3 linked regions of the Homo sapiens genome follow. The protein of the gene in region 1 interacts with the protein of each later gene in a pairwise test. Each region holds a gene or a part of one and is shown on either strand. Other genes may lie near its edges.

The links.
Region 2: the proteins of ADGRG3 (region 1) and SEC22A interact in binary tests that used the Homo sapiens proteins (3 or more experiments, as listed by UniProt).
Region 3: the proteins of ADGRG3 (region 1) and C3orf52 interact in binary tests that used the Homo sapiens proteins (3 or more experiments, as listed by UniProt).

The regions. Positions count from the first base shown.
Region 1 is NC_000016.10:57,671,306-57,674,805, reverse strand, and holds part of ADGRG3 (adhesion G protein-coupled receptor G3 isoform 1 precursor), read right to left. Parts: intron 1,486-3,500; coding exon 1,338-1,485; intron 1-1,337. UniProt on the Homo sapiens protein: Adhesion G-protein coupled receptor (aGPCR) for glucocorticoid hormones such as cortisol, cortisone and 11-deoxycortisol.
Region 2 is NC_000003.12:123,218,711-123,222,442, reverse strand, and holds part of SEC22A (vesicle-trafficking protein SEC22a), read right to left. Parts: intron 1-3,732. UniProt on the Homo sapiens protein: May be involved in vesicle transport between the ER and the Golgi complex.
Region 3 is NC_000003.12:112,106,747-112,110,478, reverse strand, and holds part of C3orf52 (TPA-induced transmembrane protein), read right to left. Parts: intron 937-3,732; coding exon 866-936; intron 1-865. UniProt on the Homo sapiens protein: Has a role in LIPH-mediated synthesis of 2-acyl lysophosphatidic acid (LPA). LPA is a bioactive lipid mediator involved in different biological processes, and necessary to promote hair formation and growth.

The sequences.
Region 1 (3,500 bases):
CACCATGTTGGCCAGGCTGGTCTCAAACTCCCGACCTCAAGTGATCTGCCCACCTCGGCCTCCCAAAGTGCTAGGATTACTTGTGTGAGCCGCCGTGCCTGGCCCATGTATAAGCTTTTGTTTGGAGACTTGTTTTAAATTCTTTTGGGCATATACCTGGGCAGCACAAAGAGGAGCCTCTGAACAGCTCTGGGGTGCTAAGAAGCTCCTGGATCACCTGCAGGTGGGAATGGAAGCCTTTTCAGGCCACTGAAATAACATGATCCAATGAGATGGCTGTCCTAACACCAAGCCTGAGAGCGCAGGGCTTTAACTCATTCCTTTAACACATATTTATTAAGTACTAATGTAAGCCACGTGCTTTTCTAGGCATCCCAGAAGAGTTATGGGCAACTTTGATTAGGAGTGGGAAAAGGAAAGAGAGGCAGAGATATTTTTGGAGATGGCTCCTAAAGATGTTGTATTCTAAACCCCTTCATTTCCCTCACCCCCACATCTAACCAGTCTCTTGTCTTACGGAGTCTACATCGTATCATCTCCCCAATCCATCTCTCCTTTCCAAGCACGCAATGCCAATTGCTGCTAGTGGTGCTGACTTGGCCCTCACTCCCACCCAGACCCCTGTGATGCATCCTACTGGGTCATGTCTTCCTGCATCACCGGTCCCTGAAGCCTGAGCAATCATTCCAAAACGCAGAGTTGACTATACTCTCCCTGCGCTTAAAATATGTCATTGCCCTGCCGCCCTCACCCATTGGTATAACTTACACAACCCTTCACACCTTAGTCTCTGCTTATATTTCCAGTCCTATCTCCCACCCATCGCATCTGCCCATTGTCTCTTCCATCCCCACGCGGTTTACATTGTTACAGTTCAAAGCATTGCAGTTATCCCCCATTACTTTCAAGTTCTGTTGCCTGTATCCTCACCATTGTTTAGATCCAGCTGGAAAACTCCTGTGCACCCTCAAAGCCCTTTCCAGGTTTCCTCCTCTGTGAAGCCTTGGCCAACTTCCCTCCTCTGGGCTAACCTGGCACCTTGTCTGCCATTCTGTATACACTCTGGAGTCATCATTATTTGGGTCTGTGTCTGTCATTCCACAACTCCCAAGGGCCAGGATAGGAGTGGATTCATCTCTGAATACCCTAGATCAGTAGGTACCCCAACTGCTAGAATGGGGATGTTGGGTCAGGGGGACTGTGGTGTCAAACAAGGTGGAAGAGTCAGATGGGAGCAACATTTTCTGGGGCCATGGGGGAAGATGGCCCCATCCCTTCCTGATAGTCCTCCTCCCAGCAGCTTCAGATTCCCCCTCCAGCTCAGGGGGCCCCCTCACCTCTGCAAGTTTTCCACATTGCAGGAGTCGCTGCCCGACTGCCTGCACTTGGTGAAGCACAAAGCCTTGTCATTCAAGTTGAAGATGTCGTACATGTTGTTGCTCCCCAGGCAGGTGTTTCTTGGCCCTTCGGTGGGCTTTTCCTGACCTAAGGAAGGAATGCAGAGAGTGTGAATGGGCTGGACGAAGATGGGCAGCAAGGATGAGGAGCAGGGAAAGGAGCTGGGGCTCCAGAGTCTGGTGGTTGGGCTAGAATTCCAGCTCCATGCATCACACTAACGGTGCACTTGAGCAGGATGCAGACCCTCTCTGGGGCTGTTTCCAAGGTAAAAGCAAATACCCCATCTCCCAGGGCTGGTAGGATGCTTTGGGGAAAGCATGTACAAAAGGCTTGGCACATGGCTCTGTAAATAAAAGGTTTCATATGTTTGTGCTATTACTCCTTTACCCCTTCCTCCAGGGAGTCTGCCTGGCTTTTCAGTTATTCCACATCAGACCTTCCAAAGCCCTTGCAACTGTGGCCTCCTGGTTAAACTCTTGGATGTATTCTGTCTTGGTTTGCCTCATTCTCCCACATTCACACTATCTTATTTGTGTAAATTTAAAAAATGATGTATTGGCAGGGCGTGGTGGCTCACACCTGTGCTAAGAAGCACACACAACCATCACAGCTACCTCCTGGGACAGGTAGAAAATACAGCAAACCAAGGCCCCTCGAGCAAAATGACTTGAGAAAGGTTACTAGCTAGTTGGAGGCTGCTCCAGGACTAAAGACCAGCTTTTGTGACTTTTAGTTCGGTTCCCTTTCACCTAATACAGGGCACAAAATGGAAGCTTTGGGTCATCTACTAACTGTATGTCCTGAGGCAAGTTACTTAAACAACCTGAGGCTCAATCTTTTGCCAGCAAAATGGAGCTAATAATACATTCCTTGCAAGTTTTGGGAAGGATTAGAGATAAAGGACATACATAGCTCATTGTAGGTGTTCAAAGAGTTTACCATCTTTAACGGTTTATTGCACAGCCTTCTGGAAATTTTGCAGAAGGTATGCATATGCAAGTATTTATAAGTACATCATTTTTTTAAGGAAAAAATGTTTTAATTAAGAAGAGGGGGTTCTCACTATGTTGCCCAGGCTGGTCTCGAACTCCTGTCCTCAAGCGATCCTCCTGCCTCAGCTGCCCAAATTGCTGGATTACAGGTGTGAGCCACCAAGCCCTGCCGATACATCGTTTTTTAAATTTACACAAATAAGATCACTTAACAATATATCTTTTTTTTTTCTTTTGAGACAGAGTCTTGCTCTGTCACCCAGGCTGGAGTGCAGTAGCATGATCACAGCTCACTGCAGCCTAGACCTCCCAGGCTCAATCGATCCTCCAACCTCAGCCTCCCAAGTAGCTGGGACTACAGGCACATGCCACCATGCCTGGCTAGTTTTTCCTTTTTTTATGTTGTTTATTTTTATTTTTTTAGAGACAGGGTTTTGCTGTGTTGCCCAGGCTGATCTCAAACCCCTGGGCTCAAGCGATCCGCTCACCCTGGCCTTCCAAAGTGCTGCGATTTATAGGCATGAGCTACCACGCTTGGACTAGCAATATATCTTGAAGAACTTTTCCACCTCATTCTTTATATAGTTGCAAACTATTCCATTCCATGGGCATTGCAACACTTTTTTAACCGGTCCCCTCTTGGTGGACATTGTTTTTCACAATCTGCCATAAGAATTCTTGAGTGTGCATCTTTTCAGCTTGTGTTGAGAACTCATAGAAAACATTCCTATCTTAGGACTTTCTGTATCTAACTGTATGTGCTTTAAAACACCGCCAGGAAGGCTGAGTGCGGTGACTCACGCCTATAATCCCAGCACTTTGGGAGGCCGAGATGGGTGGATCACCTGAGGTCAGGAGTTTGAGACCAGCCTGGCCAGCATGGGGAAGCCCTACTAAACATACAAAAATTAGCCGGACGTGGTGGTGGGTGCCTGTAATCTCAGCTACTCAGAAGGCTGAGGCAGGAGAATTGCTTCAACCCGGGAGGCGGAGGTTGCAGTGAGCCAAGATCACACCACTGCACTCCAGCTTGGAAGACAAAGAGAGACTCTGTCTCGAAAAAAAAAAAAAAAAAAAAAAAAACTCCTATTCTAGGACTTTCTGTATGTG
Region 2 (3,732 bases), on another chromosome or scaffold:
CGGATCATCTGAGGTCAGGAACTTGAGACCAGCCTGGCCAACATGGTGAAACCCCGTCTCTACTAAAAATACAAAAATTAACTGGGCATGGTGGTGCATGCCTGTAATCCCAGCTATTCAGGAGGCTGAGGCAGGAGAATCGTTTGAACCCAGGAGGTGGAGGTTGCAAAGAGCCGAGATTGCGCCATTGCACTCCAGCCTGGGTGACAAGAGAGAGACTCTGTCTAAAAAAAAAGAAGCTAAAGAGATATGACGACTAAATACAATACCTAACACTAGTCCAAATCCTGTGCCAAAAAGCAATAAAAAAAAAAAAATGCTATAAAGCATATTCCTGGGTCAACCGACAAAAAAAGGAAAGTTGGCAGTAGAGTAGATAAAGTATGGTAGGAACATTAAATTTACTGAGGCTGATATGTGTACTGTGGTTAAGTAAGAGAATATCCCTAATTTTAGAAAATATACTCTGAAGTAGTTATGAAGAAAGGGGCATGGTATTTATAAGTTTCTCTCAAATGGTTCAGGAAAAAAAAAATAAATCAGATAGTTAAGTAGGTAGGTAGATAAAATGAGAAAACAAATGTGGTAAAATGTTGACCAAAGGTGACTATGGGAACAGGTGTTATTTGAACTTTTCTTATTCATACAACTTTTCTGTAAGTTTGAAATTACTTCTAAATAAATTCAGAAATTAAAAATGAAAAAATAAGCACTGAAACATGAAAATTAACCATATTCTATTGGAAAAAAAGCTTTCTAGAATCTAGTATATACCCCACTATAATAAATAAGCAGAGCACAAAACACAAAGTAACCCTTTTTAATGAGTCACCTAAACATCATTGCATAGCACTGTCAATATAGCTGGTCTAGATCAGGGGCAGTAAACAGCATGCAGGATGTAATTCACCACTCCTATGCTGGACTCTGCTAAACTACACAGTAATCTTTTTTTTTTTTTTTTTTTTTTTTGAGATGGACTCTTGCTCTGTCACCCAGGCTGGAGTGCAGTGGCACAATCTCGGCTCACTGCAACCTCCGCCTCCCGGGTTCAAGCGATTCTCCTGTCTCAGCCTCCTGAGTAGCTGGGATTACAGGCACACACCACCACACCTGGCTAATTTTTATATTTTTAGTAGAGATGGGGTTTTACCATGTTGACCAGGGTGGTCTCAAATTCCTGACCTCAAGTGATCTGCCCACCTTGGCCTCCCAAAGTGGTGGGATTACAGGTCTAAGTCACCACGCCCGGCCTACACAGTAATTTTTACTGTAAAATTCTGATCCATACTGGTCACCTTACTATTTTCTTTCTCGAATAACATAGAAGCAGAATTTATTAATGTTTAGAATAAATATGTTCACAGGATTCAAATTTAACAAGAATGAAAAATAAAAGGGTATACTGCACTTAAAGTGTCTTATCACTCTTGCCCAGATACCCAGTTCTCCTTCCCTTGGGCAATTCAGGTTAGTAATAATTTCTTATGTATCCTTCCTGTGAGAGCTTGTAAGTAAATATGTGTGTGAATATATACATGTGACATATATATATATATATGTATATATATATATGAGACCTTTTTTAAAGACCATCCTAGGCAGCCAAATGGGCTTGCCACCTACTAGTCGTCTATTACTAGTGGTATGGGATATACTAGTGGTGAAATAGTGCTGATCTTATGGTTCTAGAGTAACCTGGTTGTTCCTTTCTGAAGCATCACTTAATACACAGTCATTTAGTGCAATGTTTTTCAAAGTGCAAGTTGTAAACCACTATGTCATAAAACTAGTTTAGTGAACTACAGCATTTTCCAGAAATTGAAATAAAATATAACAGAAAATATTGGAATATTGTTTCATAAAACTTTTTAGTTTCCTATATGTGTATATACAGCATTCACAAAGTAAAATGTATCTCTTAAGGATCATAATCAAATTAATTTAGCCATAGCATATTGCCTTTTTCTACAAATTAATATCTAAATCAAAGGTCAAAATATGCTTTGTCAAATGATTTTCTTTCCAAAAAAAATCTTCACTGTCATTATCAAAGTTCTTTGACATGTCATTAGCATTCAAATATACCCCATAATAACCTCAATAACCTGAAGACAATTGGTAATTGGCTTCCACATCCTAGGAACTCCCAATTGGCTAGCTAGGAGTTATTTGATTATCCTCCATTAATATGACTGAAGTTTTTGGAACCCATTTTTTGTATTATGTCAGAGTCTTACTGTATTTCCATATTAATAACAGAGTCAGCCACAGACACCTACATGACAGTTTATCCCAAATGGTCTATCTTACTTGTGCTAAATGTAACTAGACAATTGTATGTGAAATAAAGGAAACCCTATGTCTTTAACATGGCATGTGAGCATTTTCAGGGAGTCTTTATTTTACTACAGTTGCAAGATTCTCTCTGAAAAGGCTATAGTGTGTTCTATAACATTATGGCTTTTCATAGTAAATTTAGTTTTATAATGCTTTATTTGAAATGCAAAGCTAGTTTTCCCAAAGTATATACAGTTCCATTTATGTTTGTGATGAAAAAAATTCTGCTTTTTCAACAATCATGGGACAGATTGAAATACTCCCACCACTTCACTGAGGACTACTCATAAAATAGTCTAAAGTCATTACAGGCATGCCAGTTTGTGCATGCTTTTGCTGTGTTCATCAGGTTCACCTAGCTAATATTTTATAGACAATCTGGCGGATGTCTATCTGCCTTGAGGAGAAAGAAGAGAAATAGTAGTAAGAGTAATAGCACCACGTAGTTTACTGACCGCTTAGTATGAGCTAGGCCCTTTGCTAAGTATTTTACATATTTAGTTTCATTCTCTCAATAAAGGGGCACTATTATCTCCATTTTACAAATGAAAGAAAAGAAACTCAGAGAGGCTTAGTAACTTATCCAAGGTCACACACCATTAAGAAGCAAAGATAGGATGAAGTTAGTTGATTCCAAGGCCCACATTCTTTCCACAATACAATACCAACTTCCATGTAGTATAGATTAACCAATTATCCCTAATTCACCAATGTTTTTTCACTTTTTCCAAGCCACAAATCAATCTCTATTTTATTCCCGAAATTAAGAGTAATGAAACTTCTGAGTTTTGGAACCTGTATTACAGTTATCTTCTGGAAGCCCTCCCAAACACTCCACTTCATTTTGTACATCTTTACTCCTCCCTCTCTACATTCCAGCCACCCACTGGCCTTATTTCAGATCCCCAAGGATGCCAACCCACTTCCAGCCCTCCCACTTCCAAACTGAGAAACTTCATGATTTTGTCTTCCCCACTTGCAATGCTCCAATTCTGAACTGGCTAATTCCTACATATCCTTCAGTTCTTAGACTGAAAGTCCTTCCCAGAACACACAATCTAAACTGATCCCACTCCTACAGTATATCATAGCAGCTGTTAGTTTTCTTCACAAACTAACCCAATTTGTAATTGTATATTAATATATTTTTGTTGCAATGTCTCTCTCACTAATATACACACTCCATGAGAGCAGGGATGATTTCTGTATTGCTCACCATTATATTCTTAGCACTTAGAATATTTTGTGTCTAGTATACCATAAGTGCTCAGTAAATAAATGAGTGCAAAGGTGGCATCATTCCTTTACTCATTTATACACTAATTTGTTGAGTATATCATGCACCAGTAATTGTACAGCTTAGTAGTATCTACACAAAGCAGCAGCTCAATA
Region 3 (3,732 bases), on another chromosome or scaffold:
ACTCAACTCTTGACAGCTATTACCTCCATGGAAGGGAATGGCATTAGTTATTGGTGGTGGCAGTGGAGAAGAAAGGAGGCAGAAGGGAGACTTTTCCTGTGCATACCTCTTTATGTCTTCTTTTTTTTATTTTTATTTATTTTTATTTTTTTGACAGAGTCTCACTCTGTCACTCAGGCTGGAGTGCAGTGGCGCAATCTCGGCTCACTGCAACCTCCCCTCCCGAATTCAAGAGATTCTCCTGCCTCAGCCTCCTGAGTAGCTGGGATTAGAGGCACCCACCAACACACCTGGCTAATTTTTGTATTTTTAGTTGAGACAGGGTTTCACCACGTTGGCCAGGCTAGTCTTGAACTCCTGACCTCAAGTGATCTGCCCGCCTTGGCCTCGCAAAGTGCTGGGATTACAGGCGTGAGCTACCACGCCCGGCCCCTCTTTACATCTTTAATACTAAACAAGGAGAATGTACTCCTGTATTACTTGTGCTCCTCAAAAGCAAATGCCTATACATGTATCACTCGCATCACAGCACGACCTGAGATCTATTTCTACTTCTACCCTTAGCTTATTTGAGCATTCATTGTTAAACAGAAATGGTTTACCTGGGACTGGCTTTTCCCCTCTTCTGTGTGACCCTGGTTGAATTATACCATTAATCTGGGCTTCCTTTTTCTCATTTGTAAAATAAGGGAGTTGAGCCTGTTGGTGTAAAAGACCTTCCCAGCACTGACATTCTGTGATTCTATTACAGGTTCCCTTCATGCTCTGAGGCTCTGGGAATCCCTGCTAGGTAAATGACGAAGGGTGGGGTGGGGGGATCTCTTTCCAGAGAAAGAGAGCAAAATGTAATGTTCCACACTCTTACCTGAAGTCCACTATTTCAACTGAAGTAAAATAACGACCCAGAGAGGGCGATGTACTGTACACATCTGTGAGCTAAACAAACAGAAGCAAATTAAACCACACACATTACCGACAGATCATATTACACATCACCTGACAAAGCAAAACTGCTTCTAAGGCAGAGGAGATTCCACTCCAGCCTGGAATCAACGTTATCTGGAAGCTCTGGATCAAGAATTGAGCCCACCATAAATCAAAACTCAAGTTAATGCTACTTCAAAAGAACTCCATTTATAAGGACCAAATGACTCAGTTTCTCTCAGAAGTTGCACTGGCACCCTGTGGCCTTAGTGGTGAGAATATCAGCAGCTGGAGCCCACACAGGCCTCACAGACCATAGGAAGGAGAGAAGAGAAGACCCCAAAATGGCTGCTGGACAGCAGCAGCACAGACCACTTAGCACCTGGGACATTGCTTAGCCCAGGGCTTCTTTCTCCCTTCTCCAGAGCTTCAGTGTAAAGACAAACAGCCATGCTAAGCCATGGGTCTAGCACATCCCCTGGACAAAGAGACAAAGAGGGGAACTGCAAAAATATGGAGGCTTTATTTTATGCATGAAATATTGCAAGCATCATAAAAAATAATGACACCTGTGTTTCCACTACCTAGCTTTCATGTCTTCATATTTGCTATATTGGGTTCAGCCCTTTAATTTAAGAAACAAAATAAAGCTAAAGTGACTCCTACATACTATTCAGTTCCTCCTCTCTCTCTTTCTTAATACTAACCATCATTCTGAAGCTGGCATGCATCCTTTCCTTGCATATTTTTACAAATTACTACTTATTTATGTAATCATAACAAAATATAATTTGTGTTTTTATTCAAATAAAAGGCACCATATTCTACATAATCTTCTAAAACTTGCCTTTTTTCACTCAAAATTACATTTAAGATTTACCCATAAAGTAAATCTCAATGAAAGGCATTCACCTAACTCCTGCACAGATTCCTTTAAATGAGTATACCAGCCTATCCATTCCTCTGATGATGATCACATGCACTATTCTCAATTTTCCCCATCACAACTTATGCTGAAGCAATCATCCTTAATGTCTCCATGCATCTCTTCTTGGACATGCGGGAGTTTCCAATGGGCATATGCCAAGAAAAGGAATTGTTGGGTTTAAGGGTAGGTGCATCTCCAACTTCACAAAATTGTTCTCCCTTTCCCACCCCTCCCAGCAATGTATAAATATCCATTTCCCACATCCTTACCAGCACTTAGTGTTACCAAACTTAAATTTTTACCACTCCGAGGAGTATAAAATAGTGCTTCACATTGTTTTAATTTGTACTGCCTCGCTTACTAGTGAGGTTGAACATCTTTTCATGTTTATTAACTCTTTGGGACTTTTCATCTCTGAATTTCTCACTCATTTCCTTTCCTTCTCTTGGCTTATCTGTCTTTTTCTTATCTATCTGAAGTGGTTAGTTTTATATTCTGGATACTAGTTGTTGATATTATGTTACAAGTATCTTTTCCCAGGCATTGAGTAGTTGTGTTTCAGATATCTGAATCCTAAACTAGTAGTACTAGGAACATGTGCCATCCCCAGCTACAGCCATTATGGCTTAATGACCTATTACTTTATTCAATAACAAGCAGTCGAACATACAAAAAACAGCAGTGCCCTATGGGGAGCTTACCCTGTTTCCCCTCAACTCCAAATGGAATGTCAAGGACGCTGCACTTCCACAATACACTCCCATTTAACTCAACATGTACAACCCATATCTCAAAGAGAACAAAAGATGAGAGTGCCTGCTATTTCTGCTCTTCTAATCTTGTCACTACTGTTGTGATCTTTATAAAAACCTGGCAAAACAGGCATTAATATATCTCCCCTTTTTACTGGAAAATTAAACAGCACTCCATTCCATGAGATGAAGAAAACCTGTCCCAGGTCACTGTGCTAGTAAAAGGAGAAGCCAAAATTCAATCCTACATGTTATGAACACTAAAAACCAGCTTCTTCCCATCTGACCACACTACCCAGTGAAGAAGAAATTGATATATATACAGTGAAGGAAAGTGTCTCCTGAATATCAAGGAGGAAAGAAGCTTAAAGTGACAAAAACTTTCGGAGAAAATGACTGAGTCATTGTACAGCTCTTAAGCCCCAATGCACAGGATGTTGCCGATAGGCTGACAGTCATTTAGAAAACTCGGGAACTAGGAAAGCAGCTTTCACGGGGATGCTGTGATGGAGAGGAGGATGAGGATGCTGCAGAGGAGAATCTTTTCAAGCACTAATGTCAAGCACTCATGTCTTTCTCTTCCTTTTGGATTGAGCTTCCTATGGCAAAGGTGATATTTATCCTTCCTTCCAGTCTTCTCTGCTTCCTCCTTCCCTTCTTTCCTTTATTAATCTTTAGGGCCCAGCACAGTGTTTTGCACATAACAGGCTTTCAGCAAATTTTTAAGTTAAAATTTTAAGGTAACATATGGAGTGGTCGACTAAATCATTTTTAGTGTTCACTCGAAGATTCTTTTTGATCATGCTCCTCTGCTGTACTTAGGACATATTTACATTTGGGGAGCTGTTAGTCACACTGTCCACTTTGGGCCCAAAGAAGTGAAATAGGGTGGTTCCTCAACCCTTAGTCTTGTGTCTCCCACACAATGTCTATGAGGCTTGGTGCAAACTGAGCAAGGAGCTCAGCGAATTGATTAGCTGAGTCTGATGCAGTGGCTAATTAGAGACCAGCTTCCAGAATAAGGCAGGTGCCATCATTAACTCCTAACCCATGCACAGGGTGTGGTAGTCACACAGGCTGGCTTAAGCAGAGTAATGGCCCCAACCCTGAGAGGAAAACACTGTGGCA